Homo sapiens: one gene and its partners. The protein of the gene in region 2 purifies or fractionates together with the protein of the main gene of each other region. This does not show direct contact. Each region holds a gene or a part of one and is shown on either strand. Other genes may lie near its edges. The genes, in order: LRPAP1, GMIP, PPIL4 and ACAD8.

Region 1 (4,411 bases), on a different chromosome or scaffold from region 2:
CCTTCCCGTGCTCGCCACGCCATCTTGTGGTCCCGGGTGAACTGCAAGGACGCCAAAGGACGGCGCCATACCCGGGGCAGGACAGGCCTTGCGGTGACATGGGCAATGAGGGGGCGGCAGCTGGGAGGCCATCACACTAGCAACGGGTCCCAGCCCGCGCCTCCTTGGCAGCCCTAAGCCGACCCCTTCCCTGTCTCTGCAAATGGCACCCCCGCCCCCCGAATCTAGGGGGCCTCCAGCTCGTTCCCAGCCAGACCCCATGTCCAGGGGCTGTGCTTCTGTGGTGGCTGCCTCTGCACCCTGCCCCCAGCCTGCCTGGGCTCCACTGCTGCTGGACTGCAGCTCTGTCCCTGCTCCTGTAGGTGCCCTGCCCTGCCTTGACCCCACGCTCCAGACCCAGGGCCCTCCATGTGGCCCCACCTGCCAAGCCCCATGCACGTGCCTGCGGCCAGCTAAGGTGCCCCAGCCCCAGAGGGAAGCTCCTGACCCCTTTCTGGGGGAGGTGCTAAGGGCCCTTCCTGGGGCCAGGAAAGTCCCAAGTCCTATGAGGGCAGGACCACACCCACCTCCCTCCCAACAGACACCAGCTATAGGGACCCTGGGTGAACTCATGGCCGGATACCATACTCAAGGCTGCCCACCCAGGACCCCCGATGGACTCCCCACTCCTCACAGCCCTGCTGGGTGCTCACCGAGCTGATGAATTCTCCACCCTCAGAATGATCTGGCACTCCACACGCCCCAGGAGCCCCTGCCACCTGAGGTGGTCTCCTTCCCTCCCTGGGCCTCCATCTCAGGAAGTGGTGACACCCCTAAACGATCCCGGTAGTGTCCTTGGTCCCCTCCCCCCAGGCTGTGGCTGGGTCCCGACCAACTGTTGACCATCCACAGGACCCGCACCAAGGCCACGCTCAGACGTGAACACGGACAAAAGAACCAAAGCCCCTCCCTCCAGAGCCTGGCCCCGCCCCTGAAACACGAGTTCCCACGCAGATGAGAAGGAAAACGCAAGCAGGTTCACCGAGTGGTTAAGGAAGAAACTGCGAGAATCTTGAGAGAGAGAGCTTGGAGGAGAGGGCTGCATTTCCTTACCCGGAAACTGCAAGAGAATCTTCACCACAGGAGAGAGCTAGAAGGAGAGGGCCGTGTTTCCTTACCCGGAACGCCTCCAGCTCCTTGTCCGTGAGGTTGGCGGACTGCGCCAGGTCCCACAGGTCAATCACCCTGGGCTCCTCGAACTCTGCAGGGGAGGAGCAAGAGTGGCCTCAGCAGCACCCGGGGTGCACACCACAGCCAGCCCCGCGGCAACCACGCTGAGTGTGCGTGGAGCCTATGAGGGTTTGCAGGCGCGACCTGCATGTGTGTGAAACACGGGTGCGTGCACTCAAAGTCTTATGGGGCACAGAGGGCATCTGCTCAGTAGCTCACATGACCTCGCTGAAATGTGGCTTCTCTGTCCCCTTGGCCAAACAACTGCTTCTCCTTTGTGTCCAGAAACACCTGCCTCCATCAGAGCCTGGGAAGCGCCACAGCCCGCCCTGGCTGCCTCTGAAGCAGGAGGCAGAGGATGGACGTGGCCTGTGTGCAGAGGCTGCCAGGACCTCGGGTGGGGGCACCTGCAAGTTCAGCCAGGTCCAGACGCAGGCACAGGCCGTTTCCCTTCGGTCCTGCTCAGGGTCTCCAGCAGGATGTTGTGCTCGTGAAAGTCAAACATTCGGGCTCCTGGGAGGAGCCAAACAAACCAAGACGGCTCCTGGACCCTGGTGCTCACGAAGGGACGCAGTGAGAGACTCCGGGGCTGTCACCACTCTCCAACCAGGAGTGAGTAGTCCAGAGCCGCCTGCCCATGGAGCCCCGCAACAGTGGCCCCTGCTCCCTCCTCTGCTGACCCCTTCCTGCTCAGGACCCCGAGGACCCTGGGCTGGTGGGGCTTGCTGGAAGGCCCAGGCAGACCCGCAAGAGAACTGCAGGAGCCGCTGGACACAACTGCCTTGGGGACAGCCCGAGGTGGGAAGAGAAGTGTGTGGGGCTGAGTCGCCCTTTCCTGCATGGACTATAGCCAGGCTCATCCGGGTCTCTCCAGCACAGGAACTCAGCAAACTGCATCGCAGGCCTACAAGGTGGTCCAGCCCCCAGCACTACGGCCAAAAGCCTACGGCTGACAGTCACCAGCACCAGGTCAGGCTAAGGGAGCCTGGGTTTGGGGGTGGGTGGTGAGGGGTCTTGCCCAAGGGCACTCAGGTGACAGCAGCACAGCCACCCAAGGGGACCTGGGCCCGCGTGGACACATTTGACTGCTGTGCTGGAGGCTGCCTCTGGGCAGACCATCCTGGAGACGAGGCGGTGGCTCTGCCTGGCACCGGGGACAGAGACCAGCCCTGCTGTCTTATCACCATGAGGGCACAGATGCCATCTCCTGGCGGCTGCTGTCTCCTCGAGCCTAGAGCAGTGCCTGGCGTGCAGCTGGTGCTCAGTGTGCACGTGGAGGATGAGGTACAGAATCGGAAGCTGCGTGAGTGAGGCCAGCAGGCTTCTGGTACACCCTGCACAAGGCTCTGGCCCGGGTACGGGGCAAGAAGCAGTGGTGCAGAGCCTGGCCACTGAGGGCCTGCAGTGGAGGGAGATGAGCTGCTGAGACGGAGCCACAAGCTCTGTGGCCTCAGCGGGCGTCCTGCCCCTGCCGGGCTGAGGGGGACTGATGGACGGTGTGGGTGGCATGAGATGGAGACGGAGCTATGTTTGACGAGTGGTCTCTGTTCTTGGCCAACAGCAGCACGGGAGGGGCCGTGCTGCTGAGGCTGGGGAGACGCTGGGAAGGGCTGCTCCCAGGCCCGCTGCCGCCACTGCCCTCTGCTAGTCTCCAGGTACAAGGCTGGGGACGGCGAGTGACCTTCACGGAGCAGCTCCTGGGAGCGAGGCCTGTGACCACCCGTGGGTAGACTGAGCGCGCCGAGGGTCTCCGCTGCGTCCACAGGCCCAGGTTCCCGTCGCTACAAGCACCTGCCTGCTTGTCCCCAAAACACAACCAGAGACGGCCCCACCCTCGGGAACCAACAGTCCCGGGCGGGCACTCACCAGCCTCAGTGCTGTAGCCCTGGTGGCTGACCCTGCGCAGGCGGTCCAGGCCCTGGTTGATGCTGCGCAGCTTCTCCTTCAGCTCCGTGTGCCTGCTGTGCAGGACGCTGCCCTTGATGTCGCTCAGGTCCGAGGGGCTAATGACGTTCTCGTGGATTTCTGTAAAACCGAAGGCAGGACGCCATGAGGCTGGGAGTCCTCGCACTGCCTGCCCAGACCACTGTCTAGAACGCCCACTGCTGGGGAGCTCAAACTCGCTCTCATTTCTGGGCTGAAAATGTCCCCCTTCCGCGGTCCTGCAGCGCCGCAGAAACGACCGTTGGCACAGCTTCCTTTCCAGGCGAGACAGGCGAGACGCCGGGACACGCGCACCAAGTGGCGCCTGGCGGTGACAGCTGGGGCACCAGGTCCCCTGGGGGCTGACTCTGGACCCCTGCCCTGCCCCCTCTCTGCTGGGTCACCCTCCATTTTACTCCAGCTTTGTGGGGTGGGAAAGTCACACATTTGGGGAGGGTCACGAGTCCAGAATGAAGGACCCATCAGCGAAGCTCAGGTCTGACAAAGGCAGCAGCTGTGCCCATAGTGGGGGCAGGCGCCGGTGAGACTTGGTTCATCCAATGCAGGCAGGCGACTCCCAGAGCCTGCCTGCACAGCAACCTCCCCACTCACAAGTCCGGTGGAACCCTGGGAGGGCGTCTGGTGCCGCCTCCCTGCCCCTGCTGTGTTCCTGAGGGGAGCTGAGGCTGCCCACTGAGCACAACGAGCCTCAGGTGCAGGAGGGGTGGGGGGCAGGAGGGGGTGGGGCAGAGGGCAGGAGGGGGTGGGGGCGGGGGGCACCTTCGGTCCTGCTCAGGGTCTCCAGCAGGACGTTGTACTCGTGAACTTTCTCTTTGTGATGCAGGAACTCCCGCCAGAGCTTGTCCAGTTCTTCGCCGGAGAATTTCCCAGAGGTCTTCGCCTAAGAGGGAAACAAGGCCTGGAGTGAACCCGCCGCGGGCTCGTGTGGCCAGGGCCGCTCTTCAGCCAACCACTCCTCATGGCCAGGCAGGCCCTTGCCTACGTGAGTGCCAGGCCAGGTTCTTGGCCTCACGAAGGGCAGGAAAACAAAAAACAAACCGGAGAAGAGCTGCCGGCAGGCAACCACCCTTCTCTTGGACGTGTCCAGGCTCAACAGGGGACAGCTACCGAGCTGGCTGGGGTGGGGAGCAGAAGATCCCAAGGAGGGGGACAGGGCAGCAGCCCGGTGACCCCGGGCTTGCCTGGCTCTCCCGGCTGCAGGTGGTGAGGACAGCAAGGCCACCTTCCTAGGGGGACCTCTGCCAGCCCCTCATTGTCA
Region 2 (4,411 bases):
GGGCAGATCACCTGAGATTGGGAGTTCGAGACCAGCCTGACCAACATAGAGAAACCTCGTCTCTACTAAAAATACAAAAAATTAGCCGGGCATGGTGGCGCATGCCTGTAATCCCAGCTACTCAGGAGGCTGAGGCAGGAGAATCGCTTGAACCCGGGAGGCAGAGGTTTTGGTGAGCCAAAATCGCGCCATTGCACTCTAGCCTGGGCAACAAGAGCGAAACACAGTCTCAAAAATAAATAAATAAATAATAAAATAATAAAAAATAAAAAACAAAAAACAGTGAATCTGTAAAATTGCAACCAGGACAAGTGATCCCAAAGTAGTGTTTGGGGAGCTGTGAGGCTGTAGGACAGGTGCCACTGGGCTGGTCTGGGGGCTTAGGGAAGACATCCATAGCAGACTAGGGTGCAAAGGTCAGAGGTCCATCCATCTTCCCCAGGGGAGGAACTGGACTTGCGGCTCATTCGGACAAAGGGGGGTGTGGACGCAGCCCTGGAATATGCCAAGACCTGGAGCCGCTATGCCAAGGAACTGCTTGCCTGGACTGAAAAGAGAGCCAGCTATGGTGAGGACCTCTTCCGCCCAGCCCCAGTTACCAGGCAGTCCCCAGACCCCAGCTAGACCCAGAGCCCGGCTCTCTCTTCCCCCAGAGCTGGAGTTTGCTAAGAGCACCATGAAGATCGCTGAAGCTGGCAAGGTGTCCATTCAACAGCAGGTAGTCATGACCAGACCCCCCCGGAGAGCCCAAGCCCCCTAGAACCCCACCTTTGTCCCCCACAGATCTTCAGTATCCTCCTACACCACTCTGTCTTCCCCAGAGCCACATGCCTCTGCAGTACATCTACACCCTGTTTCTGGAGCACGATCTCAGCCTGGGAACCCTGGCCATGGAGACAGTGGCCCAGCAGAAAAGAGACTACTACCAGGTGAGGGGGGCAGGGTGGAATGTTACAGAGGTCACCCTGCTATCCTGCTGTCCTTCAGGCCTGATCCCCTCGTTTCCCAGCAAGCTGGGAGGAAGGCACCACTACCAACGTCGCCATTTCATTGATGAGGAAGCTGAGGCCCGGGGATGCTTGGGAACTTGCCCAAGGTTACCCAGCAAAGATTCAAGCTGGGCTTCCTGTGCAATTGCAAAACTTCACTTTACTTTTTTTCTTGAGACAGAATATCTTGCTCTTTTGCCCAGGCTGGGGTGCAATGGTGCGATCTCAGCTCACTGCAACCTCCGCTTCTTGGGTTCAAGCAATTCACTTGCCTCAGCCTCCTGAGTAGCTGGGATTACAGGCGCCTGCCACCACGCCCGGCTAATTTTTGTATTTTTAGTACAGATGGGGTTTCACCATGTTGGCCAGGCTGGTCTCCAACTCCTGACCTCAGGTAATCCACCTACCTCAGCTTCCCAAAGTGGTGGGATTACAGGCGTGAGCCACCACGCCCAGCCAAAAACTTCGTTTTTGTTTGTGGGGAGGGGAACGAGGTGCTGAGTGTTCTCAGGAGGAAAGCCTTGGTGTCTCTGCTTCCAAGCAGAAAGGATGGGGTGACTACATGAGACTTCTGGACTCAGGGGTCGGGGAGAGCAGGTCTGGAGAAGACCCCAGGAGGAGAATACTGACTCAGAAAAGGGTCCAGCCTGGCACGGTGGCTCATGCCTGTAATCCCAGCACTTCTGGGGGCCAAGGAGGGAGGATTGCTTGAGCCCAGGAGTTTGAGACCAACCTGGGCAACATAGTGAGACCCCCTGTCTCTACAAAAAAAAAAAAAAAGTTTTTTAATTAGCTGGGCCTGGTGCACATGTCTGCAGTGCTAGCTACTAGGAGGCTGAGGGTGGAGGATTGCTTGAGGCCAGGAGTTCGAGACTAACCTGGGCAACATAGTGAGATCCCTGTCTTTATCTACCAAAAAAAATTTATTTATTTATTTTTTTTTTTGAGACAGAGTCTCACTTTATCATCCAGGCTGGAGTGCAGTGGCATGATCTCAGCTCACTGCAACCTCTGCCTCCCGGGTTCAAGTGATTCTCCTGCCTCAGCCTCCCGAGTAGGTGGGACTATAGGAGTGTGCCATCACATCTTTATAATTTTTGTATTTTTGTAGAGACGGGGTTTCACCATGTTGGTCAGGCTGGTCTTGAACTCCTGGCCTCAGGTGATCTGCCCACTTTGGCCTCCCAAGTGCTGGGATTAAAGGCATGAGCCACTACACCTGGCCAACCAAAAAAAAAAAAAAAAAGAAGAAATTGTTTTTTAAATTAACTAGGCCTAGTGCACATGCCTGTAGTCCTAGCTACTGAGAGGCTGAGGCTGGAGGATTGCTTGAACTCAAGAGTTCAAGTTCAATGCTGCAGTGAGCCATGATTGCCCACTTGCACTCCAACCTGGGCAACAAGAGCAAAACTCCGTCTCGAAAAAAAAAAAAATAGAGTCCAGAGGTGGCAAAGCACATGGCGCAGGAATGGAAGGACTGGGTGGCTGCTTCTGGGTTGGCCCTAAGGCAGCGTCTCCATCCCCATCCCCAACCCTTGCCAGCCCCTCGCCGCCAAACGGACTGAGATTGAGAAGTGGCGGAAGGAGTTCAAGGAGCAGTGGATGAAGGAGCAGAAGCGGATGGTGAGGCTTGGAATTGGTGGAAGGGTAGGGTGAGAGAGAGGCCGGGACGCTGACCTTCTCATCATCCCCCAGAATGAGGCGGTGCAGGCACTGCGGCGCGCCCAGCTGCAGTATGTGCAACGCAGCGAGGACCTGCGGGCACGCTCCCAGGGGTCCCCTGAGGACTCGGCCCCCCAGGCCTCGCCGGGACCTAGCAAGCAGCAGGAGCGGCGGCGGCGCTCGCGAGAGGAGGCCCAGGCCAAGGTGGGCACCCGGCCCCGAGCCCCTGTAGCGCTGTGGCGCCCCCTGCCCTCCACTCTCGCCCACACGCGCCCCACCCCGCTCCTGGCCTCCCGTTTCCCCAGGCGCAGGAGGCCGAGGCGCTGTACCAGGCCTGTGTCCGCGAGGCCAACGCGCGGCAGCAGGACCTGGAGATCGCCAAGCAGCGAATCGTGTCGCACGTGCGCAAGCTGGTGTTTCAGGGGGATGAAGTGCTGAGGCGGGTGAGGCCCATCCCCAAGGCCATCCTCCCCTCACCCCGTTGGGGCCCCGACTGAGTGCCCCACTCCTCGCCCCTAAGCCACCCTGGAGACACCAGGACTAGGCCATTTCCCTCGACAGCCAGTTCCCGCCCCCAGACCCACTGTCTCGGCTCCGCCCCATGAGGTCCTGTCCCCTGGATGACCAGCCCCTGCTCTGACCATGCCTGGGTCCCCTGGCCGACTGCCCTAGTTCCTAAGCCGCCCAGGTGCGTCCCAAACCCTGACCACGTTCGCGTCTCTCAAGCCCCGCCCCAGCTCTGGCCCTGCCCCCAGGCTCCCAGGCTCCGCCCCTCCCCAACCTGCTGTCTCCACCCGGCAGGTGACGCTGAGTCTCTTCGGGCTGCGGGGGGCGCAGGCAGAGCGTGGCCCCCGCGCCTTCGCCGCCCTGGCCGAGTGCTGTGCGCCCTTTGAGCCGGGCCAGCGCTACCAGGAGTTTGTACGGGCGCTGCGGCCCGAGGCCCCGCCGCCCCCGCCGCCCGCCTTCTCCTTCCAGGAGTTCCTTCCCTCCTTGAACAGGTGGGTCACTGGAGCAGGGAGTCGGGAACGAGCCCCGGAATCGCGATGCCAGGCTGTTGGCACCGCAGGCTGGTTACTCGAGGTTAGAGAACGCAAAGCCTTAGTGGAATTTAGTACTCCAGGCTCTCGGGGGCCATAGGAGGGTGAATGGGTTGTCCCAGTCCTAGGGGCAGGGGCAGGAATGTGGGGCTACTGTATTTCAGGGGCCACAATGCCCTGGGTGTCAGGGTTTGCAGACCCAAGTGCTTGGAGTTGGTACCTAGACATGATGCCTGGGTGCCATCACCCCAGGCCAGTTTCCTGGGATTCAAACCTTCAAACTTCTGTCTTCTCAGCTCCCCTCTGGACATCAGAAAGAAGCTCTCTGGGCCTCTTCCTCCAAGGCTGGATGAGAATTCAGCTGAGCCAGGCCCTTGGGAGGATCCGGGCACAGGCTGGCGCTGGCAAGGTGAGTGCAATGAGGGCCAGGTGGGAGTGGTGCCAGGAGTTCGTTCCACCAACACATAGGTGGGCTGCAGGAGTGGGGTTTGTGAGCAGGGGACCATCCTTATTGACCTGTGCCACCTAGGGACTCCAGGCCCCACTCCGGGCAGCGATGTGGACAGCGTGGGTGGCGGCAGCGAGTCTCGGTCCCTGGACTCACCCACTTCCAGCCCAGGTAGGGATAGGACCTGGTCCTGACCCACACTCCACCTGTGACCATCCTCCAGCCCCTGGCCAAGCTCTGACCCTCAATCTTTAACTATCTTTGACCTCTGACCT
Region 3 (4,411 bases), on a different chromosome or scaffold from region 2:
TTTAGAAGACAGTTTGGCAGTTTCTTACAAAGCTAAACCATTCAATCCAGCATCTGAACTCCTAGGTATTTACCCAAATGCATAGAAACTTTATGCCTACACAAAAATCTGCATGCAAATGTTTACAGCAGCTTTAATCACAACTGCCAAAACTTGGAAGCAACCAAGGTATCTTTCAACAGGTAAAAAATATACAAGCTGTGATACATCCATACAATGAAACATTACTTAGCAATTAAAAGAAATGAGCTATCAGCCATGCATGGTGGCTCACGCCTGTAATCCCAACACTTTGGGAGGCCAAGACAGGAAGATCACTTGAACCTGGGAGTTTGGGATCAGCCTGAGCAACATGGGTAAGACTCCATCTCTACAAAAAAATTTAAAAATTACCAAGGTGTGGTGGCGTGTGCCTATAGTCCCAGCTACTCAAGAGGCTGAGGCAGGAAGACTGCTCAACCTCAGTTCAAGGTTATAGTGAGCTATGACAGCACCACTGCACTCCAGCCTGAGTGAAAGAGTGAGACTTTCTCTAAAAAAAAAAAACAAAAAAAAGAAAGAAATGAAATCCCAGGCCGGGCAACATAGTGAGACTCTGTCTCTACAAAAAATAAAATTAGCCGGGCATGGTGGCACACGCCTGTGGTCCCAGCTACTTGTGAGGCTGAGGTAGGAGGATTACTTGAGCCCTGGAGGTCGGGGTGCAGTGAGCCATTATTGTGCCACTGTCCATGCAACAGAGCGAGAACCTGTCTCAAATAAAAAAAAATTAAAAAAAATTAAAAAAAGGGCCGGGCAGGGTGACTCATGCTGTAATCCCAGCACTTTGGGAGGCTGAGGCGCGCAGATCACGAGGTCAAGAGATCAAGACCATCCTGGCTAACACGGTGAAACCTCGTCTCTACTAAAAATACAAAATAATTAGCCGGGCGCGGTGGCACGTGCCTGTAGTCCCAGCTACTCAGGAGGCTGAGGCAGGAGAATCTCTTGAACCTGGGAGGCAGAGGTTGCAGTGAGCCGAGATAATGCCACTGTACTCTAGCCTGACGACAAGAGCGAGACTCCGTCTCAAAAAAAAAAAAAAAAGGAGGGAAAGAAAAGAAAGAAAAAGAAAAAGGGAAAGGAGAAAGGGAAAGGGAAGAAAGAAAAAAGGCACAGTGGAACCTTAAATGTATATTGCTAAGTGAAAGAAGACAGTCTGAAAAGGCTACATACGCTATAATTCCAACTATATGACATTTTGAAAATGCCAAAACTATATAGACAGTAAAAACATCAGTAGTTGCCAAGAAGTGGGTGTTGGGGGTGGGGATGAACAGGTGGAGCCCAGGGGATTTTTTAGACAGTGAAACTACCTTGAATGATCCTGTAAGGGTAGATATATGCTATCGTACATTTGTCAGTTCCACCGAATGTACAACACAAAGCTTGAATTCTAACGTAAATCATGGATTTTAATTAATAATGTATCAATATTGGCTCATCAATTGTTAACAAATGTGTCACAATAATGCAAGACTGGGGGAAAGAGGGAGGGAGTACTTAGAAACTCTCTGTACTTTATGTTCAGTTTTTCTGTAATTCTAAAATTGCTCTACAAATTGTCTATTAAAAACAAAGCCAAAAAAAGAATCCATGAGACACGGATAATGAACGGATAGATAAGCAGTTAAGAAGGGAGGGCTCAGGCGGGCACAGTGGCTCACACCTGTAATCCCAGCACTTTGGGAGGCCGAGGCAGGCAGATCACCAGGTCAGGAGTTTGAGACAAGCCTGACCAACATGGTGAAACCCTGTCTCTACTAAAAATACAAAAATTAGCTGGGCGTGGTGGCGGGCACCTATAATCCCTGCTACCCAGGAGGCTGAGGCAGGAGAATCGCTTAAACCTGGGAGGCAGAGGTTGCAGTGAGCCAAGATTGCGCCATTGCTCTCCAGCCTGGGTGACAGAGCGAGACTCCATCTCGGAAAAAAAAAAAGAAGGGAGGGCTCTTCCTTACAGTAGAATGCAGGTTGGTAATTGTGGAAAAAGTGGTGGGGGTGGGAAATTACCACTTTGCATAATTACCACTTTGCACTTAGCAGAGTCAAAACTGGTGCAGTCAGGAATCATGAATGGCTGAGAAATTTATGGGGGAAATTTGACAAGGAACAAGACATTTGAAAGATCTCCAAGTGTCTAGCCACAGATTGTCTATTGGAGACACCAGGCAGTGGACTACCATGACCAAGTGACCAAAATTACTCATCTTCCAATGAATATCGTACACCTCCAGATGTGACCTCTGAGGACACAACATCACTCACGTACTATTTCGGCTGTGGGTGCATAACCTGAATCTAATCATGAGGAAAGAGTAGATAAACCTAAATTGAAAAATATTCTATTGGCCGGGCACGGTGGCTCATGCCTGTAATCCCAGCACTTTGGGAGGCCAAGGCAGGAGGATCGCCTGAGGTCGGGAGTTGGAGACCAGCCTGGGCAACACAGTGAAACCCTGTCTCTACTACAATTACAAAAAATTAGCTGGATGTGGTGGCAGGCGCCTGTAATCCCAGCTACTCGGGAGCCTGAGGCAGAAGAATCGCTTGAACCCGGGAGGCAGAGGTTGCAGTGAGCCAAGATCGTGCCATTGCACTCCAGCCTGATAACAGAGCGAGATTCTGTCTCAAAAAAAAAAAAAAAAAAAAAATTAGCCAGGCGTGGGTGGCAGGCACCTATAATCCCAGCTATTTGGGAAGCTGAGGCAGCTGAATCGCTTGAACCTGGGAGGTGGAGGTTGCAGTGAGCCGAGATCATGCCATTGCACTTCAACCTGGGCAACAGAAACTCCGTCTCAAAAAAAAAAAAAGGAAAATATTCTACAAAATAAATGCAACAGATGATAAGTCACGAGCTGGATTCTAGTCTGGAGGAGGAAACAATTATAAAAGATATTATTAGAACAACTGGCAAAATTGGAATATAAACTGTAATTTCTTTTTTCTTTTTTTTGAGACGGAGTCTCGCCCTGTTGCCCAGGCCGGAGTGCAATGGCGCGATCTCGGCTCACAGCAACTTTCGCCTGCTGGGTTCAAGCGATTCTCCTGCCTCAGCCTCCTGAGTATCTAGGATTACAGCCGCATGCCTCTATACCCAGCTAATTTTTGTATTTTTAGTAGAGACGGAGTTTCACCATGTTGGCCAGGCTGGTCTCGAACTCCTGACCTCGTGATCCACCCGCCTCGGCCTCCCAAAGTGCTGGGATTACAGGCGTGAGCCACTGTGCCCGGCCCTATAAACTGTAATTTCTGTCACTTCTAAATTTTCTGATTTTGGTAACTACACTGTGAATACGTACATATTGTTATACACATTGAATACTGCTGCTCTTAGGAAATACACACTGATTAAGAGGTAAAGGGAAATAACAGGCAACTTACTGTCAAATAGTCGAGAAAAAAAATGTGTGTTTATGTGCTTGTATAATCAGAGAGAGAGAAAAAGAGAGAATCATAAAACAGATGTAGCAAAATGTTAAAAATTGGTGAATGTGGGTAAAAGGTATATAGAAGTTCTATGTACTTTTTCCCATAAATTTGAAATTATCTGAAAACAAAAAGTTTTAAAAAGTATGTTAATCTATTTTCTTCTGGCATAAACTTCCAAAGTGTTGCTGTGGAAAAGTCTGATAACAATCTAAATTCATTCCCTTATAAGTAACTTATTCTTTCTGCCCAATTGTTCAACATATCTTTCAAGTGTAGTAATTCTCTTAGAATTTGTCTTGGTGTTGGGTGTTCAGAGTCAATACTCTGAGATACACAGTGTGCTCATTAAAATGTGTATTTTCAATTAATTTTTTTAATTTCAGTAAAGCTTTCTTGAACTATACAGCCTTTACTATTTGTTCATTCAGACAGTTGATGGTAATATAAACTTAAGCCTGGCCAACATAGGGAGATCCTGTCTCTACAAAAAAAATTTTAAAATTAGCAGGGCATTGTGGTGTGTGACTGTGGTCTCAGCAACTCAGGAGGCTGAGGCAAGGGCATTGCTTAAGCTGAGGAGTTGGAAGCTGCAGCAAGCTATGATCATACACCACTGTACTCCAGCCTGAACAACAGAGTGAGACCCTGTCTCTATAAAATAATAAATAAATAAACTTTAAAACAGACTACAAATCTGAAAGTTCTATTATATAAAATAGTAACTTTATTATCCATTCATTCCAATATTTATTATCTATGATATGACAGGTATGCCTATTCTACAAAAATAAGAAATGGAAAATAATACCAAGTAGGTCAATTAATCATCTACTGAATTATTATTCCCCAAATGACTTCAGGTTGTTAGTAATACAGAGAAGCAGTATATTTTAGAGTGCTCAGTTTCCACCCATTATTTTGCCCTACAACTACCATTCTG
Region 4 (4,392 bases), on a different chromosome or scaffold from region 2:
ATGAGGAAAAAGAAAAAGTTCAGGTTTAAAGGCCTGTCAGCACTCAGAAAGATACCTGTTTCAGCTAAACATTTTCTAACTTATTAAGAGAATCTACTAATGTCTACTCTACCTGACTAACCTACAAACACTTCTCACAACTTCTTTTAGGATTGTGACACCAACTGCCCCCAATTTCAGTGCCTCTAATTGAAAACCACAAACTATCTACAATCTCCCAGTTCCTCTCTGGCTCTGAAAATAGACTGCCTTTACATCATTTCCTTGCTCTCTTTTGTTGATAGGATAAACTCCATTTCTAAGCCTTTTACTGAAGGTCTTCCTGCCCAGGAGTTAGCATGGGCTTCACACACAGTAGAAGCCTAGGAAATGGTTGCTGTGTTACCAAAGAGAAGGGGATGCTAAAATGCATAATGCCTTACAGTTACAGAGGATCAGGAAGGATCCTGTAGGAAAATACAGAAACCCGAGGAGCTGTGAGAAAGAGGTACACTTAGGGGTCATTTCATTACCTGCCTTCTCTCACAAAGTCCCCCCATAACAGTACAAACTAGAGAGAGATGACTGCTTTGAGCATCTGGTCTAAAAAATCTGAATGGGTCTTGAGCCCTTATTACCAATTACGGTTACATGATCACAAGTCTCCTGTTCATGCCCTGGCCATGGCGGCTCTTAATCCTAGAAGTATCTTACTTTTCAAATTACTTACAGTACCTAAGTGTCCTTCTTGGGTTGCTGAAATACCCACAATCATCTCCAATGAGTTTTACTTTATTTTTAATCAAAGAAGCAAAAGGGACCACACGCCTTCCATTACTGAGACTTGTGGCCAACACCAGGTCTTCTCTAAGCGTCTCTTCCTGGAGCAACAAAGTGCACCAACGTAAGCAGCTGGATAAGGAACACAGGCCAAAAGCAGAGGCAGGAGAGGTCAGAACACTCACAGGTGGCTTGAAGAATTTACTGGCAAACATTGTCACTTTCCCCAGAGGCCTAGTGTTTAATAATGCCCTGTTGTATTTCATATGCTCCTGTTGAAAATCCTAATAGAAGCAACTGCTTCAAAGGTAGGTTAGCAAGTATGCAAACCTGTTTTCTGAAATAGAGCAGGAGTTGGGCTGGCAGGTGGCAGAGTCTCATAACCTGAATTGTTTCCTGTCCAACAGCCACTCACCTTTTTCTCCTTCTTGCCAAAGCTGAGGCCAGGGGTCCCCTTCTCAACAACTATGCATGAGATGCCCTTGGGGCCTGGTCCTCCTGTTCGGCACATGACCACATAGATGTCTGACTCACCAGCACCACTGATGAAGGCCTGTGGGGGTAAAAGGGGTGCAAAAGGACCAGGGAATGCTTGAGTTCTCACAGCGTCTGGGAACACCACTGGGTCCTCCTGACAATAAGGTCCAATGGCACAGAGACTGACAATAAGGTCCAATGGCACAGAGACTGACAATAAGGTCCAATGGCACAGAGACTGACAATAAGGTCCAATGGCACAGAGACTGACAATAAGGTCCAATGGCACAGAGACTGACAATAAGGTCCAATGGCACAGAGACTGAGGTGAGGTAAAAGGTCGCTGCAGTGACTGCAGATCAGAGAGGCAGTCCAAGAGAGTATAAAAAGGATAGACAAAAGTCAACGAAATGATCTGGAATCAGATTAGGAGAGATACAAACAGTGAGAATAAAGAAAGAGAAATGGGTCAGAGGTTCTCTTCCCAACACATAAAAATCCTATGGGAGTATTAACCCGCGGATGTGAAGGAACCAGAGGATGTCAGGAGGAAGCTGGGAACAATCTCCAAAGTGCTCTGGGAGGACGCACGCTAGTACCTTGGAGCCATTGAGGATGTAATGATCTCCCTGTTTCTTAGCGGAGGTCAGAAGAGAGGCAGCATCACTCCCACTTCCTGAGGAGGGATCAAAAGGCAGCAGAGAGAAGGTGAGAAAGTCAGTGAGGTCGAGGGAGCCCAGCACAATTCTATCTTCTAGGAAATCTTCTCTAAACAGACCCTGCTCAGAGTGTGTCACTGCAAAACCCAAGTGGCCAAAGGAACTCTCTGTACTTGGTGGAAACTGCTCATACCAGTCAGGCCACTGCCTACCTCCCAACACACCAGATAGGCTTCTTGGTCCTTGTGACATCAGGTCACAGGACTCTATTACTCCTCAACCAAACAGCTAGATAAACAGTGGCTCGACATGTCAAGAGGCTGGAAGGAGTGCTCGGTAATGCCATCTGAGCAGGAAGCATCTCTCCCTGCTATATCTCAGTGCAGTGTGGCAAATTCACCTGGTTCAGTGAGGCAGTAGGAAGCAAACTTCTCCATGGTACAGAGCGGTGGGCAAAATTTGTGCCTCTGTTCCTCATTTCCGAAGCTATCAATCATCCAGGCACACATGCTGATAGGTACACCAAGAAGAAAAGACAATGACAGAAATAAAGATGGAAAAGAAAAAAAAATGGGGGAGAAGGGGAAAGAGAACAAAGGGCAGGGCAGTGGAGTAAAGCAGAAGAGTGGGAAGGGGAGAGTCACAATTGGGAAGACTCTTTAAAGGCAAACGGTGGATTAAAACATATTCCTGGAATAAGGACTACCCAGAGATAACCAGGCTGAGGTACTTCTCACCAGCACGTTTGTACTACTTCTAGTTAGGTTACACGAGCCTCTAAAAATCAGAGTTATATGTGCTTTCTATTAGTAGTTTCTATTACTTCCTCAAATCACTGGCAGTTCCATCTTTGGATTGAGGAAAAGGGTGAGAGGGGCCGGGTGCGGTGGCTCACATCTGTAATCCCAGCACTATGGGAGGCCGAGGCAGGCAGAACACAAGGTCAGGAGTTTGAGACCAGCCTGACTAACATGGTGAAACCCCATCTCTACTAAATATGAAAAAAAATTAGCCAGGTGTGGTGGCACGTGCCTGTAATCCCAGCTACTCAGGAGGCTGAGGCAGGAGAATCACTTGAACCGGGGAGACGGAGGTTGCAGTGAGCCGAGGTCATGCCACTGCACCCTAGCCTGGGCAACAGAGCGAGACTCTGTCTTAAAAATAAATAAATAAATAAAAGGGTGAGAGGACCCTGATCACTCTATTGGAGAAGTCTCCTGGTACCAGCTCAAAATAAGATTTCTGAGAAAGCTGGCTGACCTGATTCCCTAAGCAATACACAGGATGACAGAATCAAGTCCAACAGGCAGCAACAGACCTAGCGTGTACTTATTTTATTTATTTATTTTTTTTGAGATGGAGTCTCGCTCTGTCGCCCAGGCTGGAGTGCAGTGGTCCATCTCGGCTCACTGCAAGCTCCGCCTCCCGGGTTCACACCATCCTCCTGCCTCAGCCTCCCGAGTAGCTGGGACTACAGGCGCCAGCCACCACACCCGGCTAATTTTTTGTATTTTTAGCAGGGACGGGGTTTCACCACGTTGGCCAGGCTGGTCTCAAACTCCTGACCTCGTGATCTGCCTGCCTTGGCCTCCCAAAGTGCTGGGATTACAGGCACGAGCCACTGCGCCCGGCCCCTAGAGTGTACTTTTAAGTCCAGTTCCTTGAGGACACTCAGCTTCAAAAGATCAATCTTTTTCCTACGAATCTGAACTCTCACAGTCAGCCCGAGTGAGCACTTCATTGTGCCTTCCAAGCTTGGGCACTCACTTGTGGATGCTTATATAGGCTGTGGTGCTGGTGCAGCCTGTAGCCAAGGCTTCAAAAATGACAGAGGTATCAAGACGTGACAGCCCAGACCCGCCCACATCTGTTTGTATGTAGACCCCTCCGAAGCCTAGCTGGGCTGCCTTCCGCATCACATCCACTGGGAACAGCTCCTATGTACAAAAGAGAGCAGGGTGATCAGCAGCTGATTCAGAGACGGCCTTCCTTTTAGAGGGCACAGTGAGGGATTAGGAGGCTTGCACATGCGACAGCGTATGAATTCTCTTAATATGCCTGTTTGTCATCTTACAGTGGTTATCAGTTAACATGGGTCCTGTAAAAACTTGTTCTGGCATTAAGAAGTTTCTTTTTATTATCTATAGAACTGCCTTAGTTTTATATCCAAATCTTTATTCAACTAACAAAAAAAAAGTTATGTACAAGATGATCAGGATGCCTTCTAGGAAAAATCATCCACTACCGGTATTCTCACTTGCAGTAAGAGTTGGTAAGTGGAGGAGACATTTAACAATTACATTATCAGGAGACAAAGATAAAGGTCTGCCTGAGACATCTGTTGTTAGAACGTCTAAGCACAAGAAAAACGCCTACCTTCTGGTCCCACTCTGCCATATTTGGAGCCATCTCTCGGGCAGCAAAGTCAAAGGCCACTTTTTGAAATTCTTTCTGCTCTTCATTAAGTCCCATGGAAGCTGTGGGCAGGATTGCATAT

The links.
Region 1: the proteins of GMIP (region 2) and LRPAP1 purify together in Homo sapiens (affinity purification with mass spectrometry; one large-scale study listed by BioGRID and IntAct). This does not show direct contact.
Region 3: the proteins of GMIP (region 2) and PPIL4 purify together in Homo sapiens (affinity purification with mass spectrometry, with the first as the bait; one large-scale study listed by BioGRID). This does not show direct contact.
Region 4: the proteins of GMIP (region 2) and ACAD8 purify together in Homo sapiens (affinity purification with mass spectrometry; one large-scale study listed by BioGRID and IntAct). This does not show direct contact.

The regions. Positions count from the first base shown.
Region 1 is NC_000004.12:3,514,959-3,519,369, forward strand, and holds part of LRPAP1 (alpha-2-macroglobulin receptor-associated protein precursor), read right to left. Parts: intron 4,034-4,411; coding exon 3,913-4,033; intron 3,235-3,912; coding exon 3,076-3,234; intron 1,241-3,075; coding exon 1,158-1,240; intron 1-1,157. UniProt on the Homo sapiens protein: Molecular chaperone for LDL receptor-related proteins that may regulate their ligand binding activity along the secretory pathway.
Region 2 is NC_000019.10:19,636,603-19,641,013, reverse strand, and holds part of GMIP (GEM-interacting protein), read left to right. Parts: intron 1-442; coding exon 443-568; intron 569-653; coding exon 654-718; intron 719-821; coding exon 822-929; intron 930-2,531; coding exon 2,532-2,612; intron 2,613-2,684; coding exon 2,685-2,855; intron 2,856-2,956; coding exon 2,957-3,094; intron 3,095-3,452; coding exon 3,453-3,649; intron 3,650-3,984; coding exon 3,985-4,097; intron 4,098-4,217; coding exon 4,218-4,307; intron 4,308-4,411. UniProt on the Homo sapiens protein: Stimulates, in vitro and in vivo, the GTPase activity of RhoA.
Region 3 is NC_000006.12:149,528,693-149,533,103, forward strand, and holds part of PPIL4 (peptidyl-prolyl cis-trans isomerase-like 4), read right to left. Parts: intron 1-4,411. UniProt on the Homo sapiens protein: PPIases accelerate the folding of proteins. It catalyzes the cis-trans isomerization of proline imidic peptide bonds in oligopeptides.
Region 4 is NC_000011.10:134,256,528-134,260,919, reverse strand, and holds part of ACAD8 (isobutyryl-CoA dehydrogenase, mitochondrial), read right to left. Parts: intron 4,373-4,392; coding exon 4,272-4,372; intron 3,833-4,271; coding exon 3,663-3,832; intron 2,406-3,662; coding exon 2,296-2,405; intron 1,913-2,295; coding exon 1,836-1,912; intron 1,313-1,835; coding exon 1,175-1,312; intron 892-1,174; coding exon of another isoform or gene 847-891; exon of another isoform or gene 756-846; intron 1-755.